4 linked regions of the Homo sapiens genome follow. The protein of the gene in region 1 purifies or fractionates together with the protein of each later gene. This does not show direct contact. Each region holds a gene or a part of one and is shown on either strand. Other genes may lie near its edges.

Evidence for each region. Proteins that work in one complex are often made in the same cells at the same time.
Region 2: the proteins of MAU2 (region 1) and SETX purify together in Homo sapiens (affinity purification with mass spectrometry, with the first as the bait; one large-scale study listed by BioGRID). This does not show direct contact.
Region 3: the proteins of MAU2 (region 1) and STK38 purify together in Homo sapiens (affinity purification with mass spectrometry, with the first as the bait; one large-scale study listed by BioGRID). This does not show direct contact.
Region 4: the proteins of MAU2 (region 1) and PALM2AKAP2 purify together in Homo sapiens (affinity purification with mass spectrometry, with the first as the bait; one large-scale study listed by BioGRID). This does not show direct contact.

The regions. Positions count from the first base shown.
Region 1 is NC_000019.10:19,351,829-19,355,328, forward strand, and holds part of MAU2 (MAU2 chromatid cohesion factor homolog), read left to right. Parts: intron 1-2,526; coding exon 2,527-2,617; intron 2,618-3,435; coding exon 3,436-3,500. UniProt on the Homo sapiens protein: Plays an important role in the loading of the cohesin complex on to DNA. Forms a heterodimeric complex (also known as cohesin loading complex) with NIPBL/SCC2 which mediates the loading of the cohesin complex onto chromatin.
Region 2 is NC_000009.12:132,327,487-132,330,986, forward strand, and holds part of SETX (probable helicase senataxin), read right to left. Parts: intron 3,014-3,500; coding exon 1-3,013. UniProt on the Homo sapiens protein: Probable RNA/DNA helicase involved in diverse aspects of RNA metabolism and genomic integrity.
Region 3 is NC_000006.12:36,523,480-36,526,979, reverse strand, and holds part of STK38 (serine/threonine-protein kinase 38), read left to right. Parts: intron 1-1,337; coding exon 1,338-1,389; intron 1,390-2,516; coding exon 2,517-2,639; intron 2,640-3,500. UniProt on the Homo sapiens protein: Serine/threonine-protein kinase that acts as a negative regulator of MAP3K1/2 signaling. Converts MAP3K2 from its phosphorylated form to its non-phosphorylated form and inhibits autophosphorylation of MAP3K2.
Region 4 is NC_000009.12:110,136,698-110,140,197, reverse strand, and holds part of PALM2AKAP2 (PALM2-AKAP2 protein isoform 3 (PALM2-AKAP2)), read right to left. Parts: coding exon 1,659-3,500; intron 1-1,658. UniProt on the Homo sapiens protein: Binds to regulatory subunit (RII) of protein kinase A. May be involved in establishing polarity in signaling systems or in integrating PKA-RII isoforms with downstream effectors to capture, amplify and focus diffuse, trans-cellular signals carried by cAMP.

The sequences.
Region 1 (3,500 bases):
GTTTGGTAATTTTTTTTTTTTTTTTTTTTTTTTTTTTTGAGATGAAGTCTTGCTCTCTTGCCCAGGCTGGAGTGTAGTGGTGTGATCTCGGCTCACTGCAACCTCTACCTCCCAGGTTCCACGGATTCTCCTGCCTCAGCCTCCCGAGTAGCTGGGATTACAGTCGAGCACCATCACACCTGGCTTATTTTTGTATTTTTAGTAGAAATGGGGTTTCGCCATGTTGGCCAGGCTTGTCTCAAACTCCTGACCTCAGGTGATCTGCCTACTTCAGCCTCCCAAAGTGCTGGGATTACAGACGTGAGCCACTGGGTAATTTTATATTTGCCTTTCTCCACACCTCTGTATTGGAAGCTTTTTTTTTTTTCTTAATGGCAATGAGTGTTTTGAAGCCACATCTACTCTGTAGTTTAACCATTCTCACTGTAGCCATTTCCACAGGACAGATAAAGCAAGATGTGTGTCTTGGCCTGTAAAGTTTCACGTGATCTGAGGGCTCCCTCAGCATGGATGCTGTTAACAAACGTGGTGCCCGCCCACCGCAACACACAGACACATAACTGTGTGGTAAGCCTTTGCAGAGGCCAGCGAATGGGCCCTGCAGCTCAGGCCCTGGTGGGCCTTGGCCTCAGCACTGGGGATGCCACTACCCCGTCAAAACCTGTAGCTGGCTCCTTCTAGAATGTGCTATCACCCTGCCCTCAGCCTCTGAGCACAGTGAGGGCTGTATGTCCCCACTGGACAGTGCAAGTGGCCTGGGGGTGTGTCAGATGGGGAGGTTAAAGTCACACAGCCCCAGACCGCAGAATCAGGACTGGAACCCAGACCTCACTGGCTCTGATTTGTGTAGAAACCCCTGGAAGCTGCCTGGAGCAGGGCAAGGAGGGTTGAGCAGCTGGTTCACTGCTGCTCCTGGCCCATGTTTTAGGTGTTGTGGGGGCATCTTACAGAGCTCTTTTGGGAATCCCCCTCTGCTCCCTGTGTCCCTGGGCCCTTGTCGGGTGACAAGCGGCGCCCAAGAACTCTCAGACCAAGGTCCTGGCCTTAAGTGACTCCAGATCTCGGGGAGACACAGCCAGACACAGCCAAGCCAGTCCTGTGAGGTCAGGCTGGGGACATCCAGAAAGGTGGCAGCCTTGGGGGCCGGGATAGTGTTGGTGCAGGCAGGGCAAGGTTGGCTAGGCAGGGGCTGCCACAGAGATGGGCACCACAGCAGTCAGAGCACAAGTGCCGGAGCAGACGGCTGAATGGCCACAATGGGCTCAGGTGAGGGTCCAGGGGCCCAGAAGAGCTTGGGATGCCCTGTCCTGAGCCTGTTAGGCTAGAGTGTCCACAAGAGCGGGACACCCCCCAGGATCACTCAAGTCTTCAAAACCAGATTCTGTGGGGTACCCCAAGCTGGCATTGGGGGAACCTACCCAGGAGCGCTGAAGGAGGACTCTCCTTCCCCAGGCTGCTTTCAGACAGAGGTCCTTGGCTTTCTACAGGGAGCCCAGCCAGGCTCACAATAAGCCAGGCCTAGCGGAAGAGAGCAGTTTTTCTTGCTCTGAGGTTTCAAAAGGGCTTGGTGAATTTTAAAAAGCTCCAAGACCCACCTGGAGCTCACTTTCAAGGTGCAGCTACAGGGCAGTGTAGAGTTGTTGGGCTTTGTGTCTCAGGAGGAGCATCTCTGCACTCTGGAGAAGTATCTGGTGGCGTCAAAGCCAGGTCTCAGGAGTTGGTTTTGGGGATGTGTCCATCTTGGCTTCCCAAGTGCTCCCTGGGCTGCCAGGAGCCATCATCTAGGGAATTTTCCAGGTCTTACCTGAACCCCACATCCAGGCTTACAGGGCTTTGAGTCCTCGGTCCAGACAGGGTCAGTCCAGCACTGCTGGTCGCCTGTGTAGCACAGGCTCCTGTCTGCCGTCTCCAGGCCCTTGCCATAGCAACAGGGATGGGCATTTATGGGCCCTGATGGCTCTTACTGAGCTCTTCCTGCCACATCCTGAGGATGCTAGGGCTGCAACTGGGGTGGCCCTGTGCAGTCACAAAGCAGGGAGTCCGGATTGGAGGATTCTTACATGCTGGTGCCCCCAGAGCCCCTGCGTGTCTGCGGGGGCCTCCCATGAGAGCCAACTCAATTGTGGAAGACAAACCGGAGGGGCTGCTGCCCTTCTCAGAACCTGAAACCTGGAACCCTATATGAATCTGCATTTCTGATCAGCCCCCATTGTGGGTCTAGGGCTAACGGCCATCAGTGCTTTTTCTCTGCTTGAACAGGTAGAAGCCCCCAAAGTTGTCCATTGGCCATGCCCCTGTGAGGGCATGAGCCAGAAGTGAGGGCAGTTTGTTTTTCAGTGATACTTCAGAGAGGGCCATTTGAGATGGGCTCTGAGGTAAGCATAGGAGTTCACCAGACGCAGAAGGAGGTCACAACCTGGGCTGGGTTCAGTAGGTGGGTTCCAGATTATCCCCACCCCAACCTGGGCTGGGTTCGGCAAGTGGGGTCCAGGCTCCTCACTCCCCCTTGCTGCTCTTGGTTGACAGGAGAGTAACAACATGGTGGTGCCTGCCATGCAGCTCGCCAGCAAGATCCCGGACATGTCGGTACAGCTGTGGTCGTCAGCACTGCTGAGAGGTGAGTGCAATGGCCACCCCTCTTCCCCAGCCCCAGCCTGGCCCTCCCCAGAGATCAAGGCTGCTGGGCATGTCCTGCTCAGCCTTAGCTCGGACTAGGCCTCCGTGGGCCGCAGCCCCAGTTCTAGCATGGGTAGGGGGTGCTCCTCAGGAGACCCTGGTTGAGGGCAGTGGGTGCATTTGTGGCATCCGCTTGACTCGGGGTCTGGTTCAGTCTCTATAGGACACAGAGGCTGCGACTTGGTATCTGGTAGACTTGGGCTGTTAGCCGTGGCGCTCTCAGCCTTGCTTCTTCCCGGAAAGGCAGACAGCAGCCATACCTATTGGGTAGGGCTGGCCAGCTAGCTCTGGGAGCAGGGCGGGCACTCAGCGGGTATCATTGCTGTTACCGCAGCTCCCCCATTTCCAGATTACGAAACTAAGGTCCGGAGACTCGCCTGGGGCCCTGGGGAGGTGACAGGAGACGGGGTGCTCCATGTGCAGTGGGCTGCCTGGGGCTGCTGCCTCAGGATGGGCATTGGGCGTCCTGCCCCAATGAGCGCCTGTTTGCCTGAGGGCTGGCCATGGGCTCCCTGGAGGGCTGGCGAGAAGCCTGGCATTGGGCTTTCACTGCCCAGCCAGCCCTGTTCTGCCCTATGAGGGCGGCTGGCGCATGGGCTTTGTGATCCCAAGACAGGGCTCAGGTCCAGTGACGTGCCAGGCACCCAGAGATCCACCAGTGCAGCTGGGACTTGACCTTAGGGCTCCATCTGCACCGAGTGGGAGGGCCTGGGCAGTGACAGGGCAAGGCGGGCCCCCATGCTCATGTCCCACTCTCAGACCTGAATAAAGCCTGTGGGAACGCCATGGATGCCCATGAAGCCGCCCAGATGCACCAGAACTTC
Region 2 (3,500 bases), on another chromosome or scaffold:
TACTTTCACAATCAGAAAGTCTTCGTCTATTTTTTTGTGATTTGGGTCTGATCTGCCTTTGCATCTGAAGTTCTTGACTAGTCAGAAGTTTCTTATTATTTCTGACAGACAGGTTCTGAGGAGAAATTAATTTAGTCTTTTTTCGGGTATCAACTACTCCAACAGTTTTGCCATGATCACGTAATTGAGCTACATAATCCAAAGACCGCTGGGACAACTCATATGCCTTACGAGGACCCTTTTTCAGGCCAAGTTTCTCAGCTGTTGAAGTTGGCTCAGGACACTGACGAAATTTCTTTGGCGGCACTATAGCAGGAGTTGTTCTACAACTTAGGTAATTTGAACTTCTATTCTGTCCTTTTTTGGCATCTGAATGAGTTTTCTTAGGGGTCTTAGAAACTGGAACTTTCCTGATGGGTTCTGTACAAGTACAAAGCTTTGAAGACTTCTTTTGTGAAACCGTAGTGGCTCTCTGAATACGTGAATTGGGAGTTGAAGTCCTTCTATCAATACTTTTAAAATCATTTCCCACAAGATCTCTCTTATTAGTATCAGACTGGCCCTCATTTCTGACAGAAGATGAAGGCCTCACAGGATCTTCAGCCATTGGTTTTTCAGATCGTTTTCTCTTAGGCTTTTTTACTTCAATTTCACAAAATTCTTCAACAGAAATACTCCGTGGTCTTGTGTGTTCTTCAATGCCCTCTGCTCCTTTTTTAACAACTTCAGATACATAATCTGTACAACCCTGACCATTTGTAGTATTGGCTATAGGAGCCAAACATTTTTTCTCACCATCTTGAACTGAATTATTATCGTCTGGATGATCTTGCCAAACTGAAAACACTTCAGATGAACTTTCAAACTCAAAACACTGAGAATCAGATTCCTCAAACTGAAAAAGAGTCTCTGTCTTTTCTTCCTTTACTGGATTCTTTTCCTCCTTACTATTAACTGTTGAAACGTGCTGCTCTGGATGTTCCCTCTCAAGGCATATTTTGTCCTGTTTAGTGAGTTTCTCAAGACTCAGGATTCTTTCATCATCATCATCATCAGAATCTGAAATAATAATAACCTGTCCACGGGAGGTATCTCCAACATTATTTTGGTTAGCTGTGAAACATCTTTTATCTTCTTTTACTTTCCTTTGCAGCTGCGATGAGTTCTGAGGTGAATCGGATGGGAACGTAATAACACTGGCTTGAGCTAGTAAAGATAATTTGTGAAGGTCTCTGTCTATCTGAGAATCCGTTAAGGTGTCAGATTTAGGACTGATGTCAGGGGCCTGTTCTCTTGTCAAGTTAGAATAAATCACACTGGTACTATTACTCATCTCCTCATCTCTTGATTCAGGTACAGTCATAAGATCTTTAAAGGGAGATGATTTCTTCTCTGAAGCATTGGTCATTTCTGTAAAAGGGATCAATTCTTTACCATCAACATGAAATTCCTGTATTTTACAATTGTTTTCATGGAAAGAGAAAATAACTAATTCTTCATTCTTTAATTGTTTCTCTTTTGGCAATACATTGTTTTGAGATTTTTGTTCTCCATTCTTATCATCCAGAACACCACTAGGGTCTAAAGAAAGATTGTGTATGAAACCATCTCCTTTCTGAACTCCTGTATCTTTCCTTGAATAGAAACTCTCAATGTTAGATACAGTCAAATTTTCATCTAAATTGATAGTATTATCGACCAAAGTACTCTTCCTGTGTTGCTTCTTTATTACATGTGATAACTTTGCACAGATTTCATCTTTCTGTACCTTAGTTTTTCGTTTTGAGGTTTTAGCAAGAGCATCATCCTTTAAAGAGAAATCTTCATTCGATGTGGACACTTTTTCCAAAGCATCAGTGCTAGAATCAGTCAACAAACGTGTTGATACTATTATTCCTCTGTCACATCCCCTTTCTGGACCATTTCTTGAAGTACAGTCCTTTGGTGTATATGAAGAGATCTCTTTTACAGACTTCTGCTTCCTTGTACTTATTTTAATTTGATCTTCAGCTCTTTCAGTAAAAATGTTTTTACTACTCTGCTTTAAGCATGACCCAGCTAAGAGATGGTCCTCTAGTTTCACATCCTTTATATAATTTTGCTCATTATTGTCACCTTCTATAGTGTTATCTGCTTTGATCAATACACTGTCTTGCACTTTCATTGGTTCTTTAGAAAATGTTGGGCTGGAAGCTTCCAAACAATGCATATCTTTTCTAGACGTCTTCCCCATTTGTTCACTTTCTTCTTTATTATAAGATGCAGGAGAGATTTTACATGCAGAAGTCAGATCCACAAAAGTGTTACATGGAGGTGCTTTGAATTTTATGTTTCTAATAATTTGCTTTAAGCAACTTTGTAGCTCATGGGTTTCCTGACTAGTCAACTGCCAACCTAGAGATAAATTTCCTCTAAGGAATAAGTTGAGCTTATCCCAGAATCGCTTGCAAAGAGACTGCTGCCCAAGCTGATAACCTTCTTTAAGGAGACTTCTAATCAGCTGCACATAAGCAAGTTGTACAGAGTTAGATGGCATGGAATGCAATGACAGTGAAGATATCATTGCTGTTCCTTTGGAGCAATTTCCAGATGATTTCTCAGAACTCCGTGTAAACGCAGTGGTAGGAAGCTTGGCACATTTGACGACGGCTTCCACCCATTGCTGGGAACTTACCCACAGCAAATGCAAACATTTTTTATTTCTATGCAGTTCAATCACTGATACCAAAATTAGAAGAAAAAATTCAGTGACTTTGTCACACACAGCATCTGTTTGGTTGAGGACTTCTTTGACTTCAGAGTACAGATGATTAACAACCTGTGCTATGTAAGCCACACCCAAATCCTTAAGATCCATGAGGGACTGGACAAAAGGGATGAACCATAGAAATGTGCTGTTATGAACACGCATGTCTTGACCAATATCTGACTGAAGTACACTGGCTAATGTTTCCATTTCTTCATACATGTTAGGACAATAATCTGGGCAAATGGCTGTTCTCCATCCAGAATCCTAAAATGAAAGAAATGCTGATGTTCAGATAAATAAGCACCACTTATGACAGGTTCAACACCCAAGTCGTTAAGAAAAATACGTTTCTCAACTCTCTTATTTTGGTTTACCACATCATTATTATGCTATACAATGGTATAATTGTGGCATATAATTATATCACAATCGTAATACACCTAACTCCCAAGAAAGTGAAAATATAAATTGAATTTTGAGTTTTCATAAAAAGACAAATTGGTAACACCTTTATGTACTCTCACCTTCTGTCCACTAGCTAGTTTTGATTTCTAGTCATGCCATGTATGTCCCCATAAACTTTCCATCTTCCCTAAATGTACTTATAAGTTAATTTTCCAAAGTATGCATACTGTAGTTAGAGTCCATCTTCCCCAACACACAATACATCTGCTGTTCAATGAGAAGGGCTTTTACATAGCAGTAGATTGAGAACAGCTACATATCACAAAATCTGCAACTCAACAAATTA
Region 3 (3,500 bases), on another chromosome or scaffold:
ATTTATGATCCACCCTCCTCAGCCTCCCAAAGTGCTGGGATTACAGGCGTGAGCCACCACGCCCGGCCTTTTTGTTTTTTTTGAGACAGGGTCTCACTCTGTCACCCAGGCTGGAGTGCAGTGAGTGGTGTGATCTCTGCTCACTGCAGCCTCCACCTCCTGGGTTCAAGTGATTCTCCTGTCTCAGCTTCCCAAGTAGCTGGGATTACAGGGTATGCCACCATGCCTGGCTAATTTTTGCATTTTTAGTACAGACCAGGTTTCACCATGTTGGCCAGTCTGGTCTCGAACTCCTGACATCAAGTGATCCACCCGCCTCGGCCTCCCAAAGTGTTGGGGTTACAGGCGTGAGCCACTGCACCTGGCCTAATTTTTATATTTTTAGTAGAGATGGGGTTTCACCATGTTGGCCAGGCTGGTCTTGGACTCCTGACCTCAAGTGACCCATCTGCCTCACCTCCCAAAGTGCTGGGATCACAGGCGTGAGCTACCACACCCAGCCTGATATATGGAGTTTTGATAGTGGTGCCAGTCACCTTTTTGATCACTTTTTCCCCTTAAATTTCCAAATTCTGCTTTTAACTTTGTTGTTTGTTACCCTTTCCTCATGGCAGGGAAGAGGAGGAAGATGCAGAAATAAAGGAAGTAGACTTCAGTCAGAGAGAGGGAAAGAAACAGCATGATATAAGAGTTTATCAAATACCAGCTGTTTTGTGGTTTGGTAAGGAGGAAATAACTGGAAAAAAAAAAAAAAAAAAACACCCAAAACCAAGAGAGGACATTTTTTTGAAACAAGAGTCTTTGTTGCATTAACATCTTAGACAGTCTTTTAAAAAATGTAGACCTAAGGGCGGGGCATGGTGGCTCACACCTGTAATCGCAACACTTTGGAAGGTCAGGCTGGAGTTTGAGACCAGCCTGGGCAATATAATGAGACCTCATTTCTACAAAAAATTTAAAAATTAGCCAGGTATGGTGGCACGCGCCTGTAGTCCTAGCTACTTGGGAGGCTGAGGTGGGATTGCTTGAGCCTGTGAGGTGGAGATTTCAGTGAGCTGAGATTGCGCCACTGCATTCTAGCCTGGGTGACAGAACAAAACTCTGTCTCCTCTCCTCGCAACCTGCCCCCCTCCCCCCGCCAAAAAAAAGTAGGCCTAACAAAGGATGGAAATCTTTTTACTTGTCTTAGTAACTTAATTTTTTTTGTTTTAATGAGACATTTTGAGATTTACCTGTTTGTGTCATTTTTAAAAATCTACTACAGTATTAAGTTACAGAATTTTCAGAAAGTTATCATTCAGATGTGATTTCATGTCTTTTGTTTTTGTTTGTTTTAGACAAAAGAAGTTAGAAAAGGTGATGGAAGAAGAAGGCCTAAAAGATGAGGAGGTAATTAATATTGGCAATGTTTTCCTTAAAACCCAGCGTGGCAGGTTGTATCTTGTCCAGTGAGTTGTTAGCCTTGGTACACATGAGAAGGGTTTTGGCTCAATAACAGAGGAACTTGAGGGGTAGTGTGCTTCCGGATTTGGGTGTTAATTCAGAGGGACAGATTAATTATTAAGTACCTAGGAGAGGAAGGCTTCTCTAGATGCAGTTATAGTAAACTAGATTTAGAATTCCAAGAGAAAGCAGGGATGAAATCAAATTAAATTTTAAAAGAGCAAGTTGTAGCATTTTTATAGAATTCACTGAAAAGTCTCCGTAGGAGTAGGGCAAATTTTTGAAATATTTATTTATTTTACTTTTTCTGGGATACATACGTGTGCTGAACATGCAGGTTTATTACATAGGTATATATGTGCCATAGTGGTTTGCTGCACCTATCAACCTGTCATCTAGGTTTTAAGCTCCGCATGCATGAGGTATTTGTCCTAATGCTCTCCCTCCCTTTCCCCCCATGCCCCGACAGGCCCCGGTGTGTCATGTTCCTGAAATCTTTATTAAGGCAAAATATCCATCTCAAATCAGCCCTTCCACCCAGTGCCCACAGATACAGTAGGAGAAAATATAGTTAACAAGGGACTGTGCAAGGAACTGAAATGGTAGTGGAAATGCCTTCAAAAATAGGACTGGCTTGCAGAACCCAGGACGGTGGTGAAAAATACCCAATACTTGTAGAAATAACAGAAAGTTAGAGTATACAGTGTTTAAGCCAGAGGGAAAGATAAGAACACATTTTTAATTTATATTAAACAGGATAAAGGAAAATATTGTTGATTATTTATCCCTCCCTTCACCAAAAATGTTAGGATAGTGGATTGCTGAAGTAGGTTAGTCAGAGTTCCCAGAGGAGGCACCCATCTGTTCAGTGTGGCTTGGATGTTGTGTCTAAATGCCAGGAAAGGGAGAAGTGACCTCTTAAGGATCCTTCTGGGGTGATTTCATATGTGAAAAGATTATCCTTAGTCCACTTGGACCTGTTTTCTAGCTGGGTAAGTCACAAACATGACTTGTTACAGAGTTTCAGAATTTCAGTTCCTTCCCGTCTCCTCCCTTTTTTATTTAAATATTAGAAACGACTCCGGAGATCAGCACATGCTCGGAAGGAAACAGAGTTTCTTCGTTTGAAGAGAACAAGACTTGGATTGGAAGATTTTGAGTCCTTAAAAGTAATAGGCAGAGGAGCATTTGGTGAGGTAAAAATCACAGCTACTTGTCAAGTAGAAAAATATTGCAAAACTTCAAAGCTTCTAACATACCATTAAGTCATGATTGTTGATATAACAAATATATGGAATTAAATGAGTCAGGCATGCCAGCCCCACATCCTAATTGCTTTGTCTGTCTGCTTTCTCTTTTTCTTCTCTCCGCAGTCCCAGATCTCTGTTCTCTGTTTTGCCAGAGATGGTGTTGGTGTTTAAATATTGACTTAGGGGGAGAGTTGAAAGGTAGAAGGAAATCAACATTTATTATTTACAGGCTGCTTTTTTCCCATAATCAGGACAGTAACCCATTTTATAGATGGTGAAATTAAGACTCTAAAGGTATATATAATGTCTCTTGTTATCACACAGCCATTGAGTACTGGGACCAAAAGTTGGGCTCTACTTCCTGAACTCAAAGAGCTTGCTTTTCCCAGTACTGCACTGCCTCTCGAGAAGGAAACTAATAGTGTATCTCCACCCTTTATTTCTCCCCACCAGATTGATACAGCTCTAAAAAGATGACCCTAGGAGGGAGGATTTACAGAAAGGAGTTATATAGGTAGTGGTGGAGAGTTGAAAGCATTTGCGACTTTGTCCCCGCAATTCTTGGAAATGATCCTGCTTGGGCACAAGAGCAATCTGTTGGGGAGAGCTTGAAAGAGCCCATGCAAGGTCATTCCTGTTAATGAAAAATGCCCAAACTGGATGACCTACTGACGCAATAATTGCAAGTATAAAAGGAGCAGTATATTATTAAAACCTGGTACCCCGGGGCCAGGCACGGTGGCTCACTCCTGTAATCTCAGCACTTTGGGAGGCCAAGGCGGGCGGATCACAAGGTCAGGAGTTCGA
Region 4 (3,500 bases), on another chromosome or scaffold:
GAATATCACAGGAATCCATTGAATATCACAGGAATCCATGAGATCATACCGACATAAATAAATGAAGTTTGATAAGAAATGGGGTGAAAATTGCAGAATACCACAGTATTGCCCTACAAAATGTATATTAATTACAAAAGAAAAAAGTAACTACTGTGCAGAAGGCTGGCAGACACTCCCTCAATGGAGTGATCATAATCAATATTAAGTGATCAGAGTTGACACCTGTCACCATAATGGGACAAACTAATACCACGTGCTACCTGTTTGGATACAGTGAGAACACAGCATCAATTTGGTGGTATTCCTACCAAAGATGCACAACCTGAAAATCATCATATGAAAACATCAGAGACCCACATTAGGGAGCAGTCTACAAAATTGGGGGTGATGGGGCATCATGTTGGCAATTTACTCTCAAATGATTCAAAACAGAAAGACATTTGTACTGTACTTGGGAACTTTTCTTTAGGTTGGAGATTCTTTCCAATTTTAAAAAGTTAATGAGAAGAGTGACCTTGAGTCATTGTAGGTTTGATGGAAGCCAAGTGTCAAGATAAGATTAAGATATGGATGGACCAAGATAAGTGTCAACAATTATCCTTTAGGGTAACGATTCTTAAATTTTCTCTGGTGAAGCATCAGTTTTTCCCCACCAGTCCATTATGAAGCAATAGTTTTGTAAAATACAAAAATCCCACGCTTGGATTTCAGGACAATATCACATTGCAATAGGAGTTTTCAAATGCTTACTCTCGATGTCTGAACTTAGAATGAACCAGTAGCAAATGATTCCTGGACTAGCTTGGACCACGCTTTGAGCAGCGTTTTCCATAGCTGAAGATCTGTGGATCCCTGATTGCTATCACATTCACATGGAAAATAAAAACAACTGGTCACACTGTTATCCATATGGTAGCAATAATAATTAGCACTCTAATTAACATCAACCATCTATACAAAGTATTCAAAAAAGGGACCACCCAGGCAATATGAAGGGATTAAAGACCTGCCTTTGTGAAGAGTAATTCAACTTTTCCAAATGGGTCACATGACAAGAACAGATGCGTCCACTCCTGATTCCAAAGTAGTTGCTTTGTGGTGACTTAAGAAGAAAAACCCAGTTACACGGAAGATGAACAAAAGCATTTTGCATGGACCAGTCTGCAATGCCATGCCATGACTATCATTGCTGGGAAGGAAACCAGCATTCAGAAGGGGTTAGTTAGTAGAGGACAACTCCCAAATCAGATGGGTTTAACTAGATACTGAGGGTCAAGCTACTGATTCCAACATAGTCCACACATGGGTCCACTCTGGTTCTATGCCACAAACAGCCTCTCCTTCAGACAAGAGGCAGGCTTTCAAGTAAAAGAGAACAATTCTTTATAATAAACCAAGGCCAAAGCAGAACAACAAAGAAGGAGCTATTGCATCCTCTGGAAAGTGGCAAACTCCATGCAAGCTCAGGGTTCTTCTAGAGGACACTCTTGACACTTTTGTTGCATGTCCCTGTATGCTGGAATTCTCATGCCAGTGTCCCCCCAACACTTATTCCAGACACACACAGAGGAGGCTCCACATAGAAACCCATGAGCTGGAATCAACAACAACAGACTGCTGTGGCATCTGTCTCTCATGTGAGGCACCTCACTTACCTGGAGCAGTTTTGTAGCATGTTCTGGAGGGCAGTGATGGGGCATTCTTTGTCCTGGGGCTCTGCGTACTCTGCAAGACTTGTCTCTGCCTCTTCAGCTCCTCTTCCCTTTCCTGAGCTGCTCGGATCTCTTCCTCAATCATGGACAAAGTCCGCTGTTTCCTGGACCTCAGCTTGAAAGGCCCAACCATCACGTCAGATTCTTGAGTGGCCAGGAGGGAGGCTGTGCTTCTCAGCTCAGCTGCCTCCGAGTACTTGCTGAAATAGCTTCCTTCGGGCCTGGTCTCCTCCATGTTAATCGGGCCACTGGGCTGCACAGCTGGCAGTGGCTGGGGGGGCCCCCTTTCCCTGAGCGCCCTGTCTTCAGCAGGCAGAATCTTTGGTAATACATCCCTTTTCTCTTGAACAGGAGAAGACACCTGAGGTGGCTCAAACATGCTCTGAGGCTTTTCTGAGCCGAAAGCCGCAGCTTCAGCTTCCTCTACAGTCGCTTCAGGTCCCTGTTGCTCTGCTCCATCCCTGCTGGTTTTGGACACAGCTTTATCCACCTGCTCGGCTATGGCTTGTTGAATGGCATTCTGCACCAGGAGGCCAGCCTGATACTCCAAGGGGTCATCAACCAACGGAGAGTCCCCCAGCGTGGAGGAAGGGGAATAGAAACCATGATCACTAAATGACTTGGAGACGCCTTCTCCTCGGCCCTCTGAGGGGTTGTCAGTTTGTGGTGTCTGGGGCAGAGAAAAATCAGCCAGTGAATTTTCCTGGAGGGCATTGGTTGTCTCATTGGATGCCCCGCTGTCACTGATGTTGTCCATGCTGAAATCATTGGATAGGGTCTCCAGGACTGTGGTATCCTGAGACCTCACCGACAATTCGTCCAGACCAGAGTCAAGCTCCTCTTGGGTCAAGGAGACATTGACAGATCTTGAGAACTGATCCAAAATCCCATGGTCATCATCCTTGACCACAGTGAGGACAGCCCGGGCGCTCGTAAATTCTCCATCCTCAGCCCACAGTTTAGATAAGGGCCCACGTTTAGAAGGCTCGCTGTAGGGCCCTTCCTTCCCCTGAGAGGCTGTGTTGCCCTGGCTTCCTGCTGCCGATGGGGTCTCCAGGGCACCGGGGGATTTCTGTCCCTTGGCGGCTGAGGCACCACTGTCTTCTGGAGGTCCCCCGACAGAAGGTGGTCTCGGATTAGTCAGTGGCTTGTCTGAGTTGACTGACCCCAGAGGCCTGTAGAAAGGCTTGATGGAGAACAGCCTGGGTGTACTCTGGCCCTTGGCCACCGCTTGCCTGGAATTCTCCATCAGCTGAAATTGTTTGCGAGCAGCAGAGAAATCTATCTGCTCTGTGACAATGTCCTCCTTTGCTTTGTCAATCATGCTTGCGCGTTCATGAGAAGAGGCAGGGGCTGTGCAGAGCTGCGATGGGGGCTGCTGCTGCTGCTGCTGTAACTGCTTCTGCAGCAGCAACTGTTCCTGCTGTGCCCTTCTCTCTTTGCGCTCCTTGTACTTTTTGTGCGACTCCAGATGTTCCTCGTCCAGCTGCTCCTCGATGGTTTTTTCCTGCGGGGGATTCCACCATTTTGCTGCAATGCCAGGATTCTTCTTGACGGCCTGGCTGCGGATGAGCTCTCTCCTCTCCTTTTCCAGCTCCAGCATCTCCTCTGAAGGCCTCACTTTTCTAATGCAGTATTGTTCTTTCTCATGCTCGTCATCCTCAAAGAGCTTGGAGGGCTTCTTGTCCTCATGGAAGGCACGCAGCTCAAACTTGGCCTCCTTTTTCAGTGTGGTGAGAGTGAACTCTCCATCTCGGGAAGAACACCGTGAGCTGGTTGTGGAGC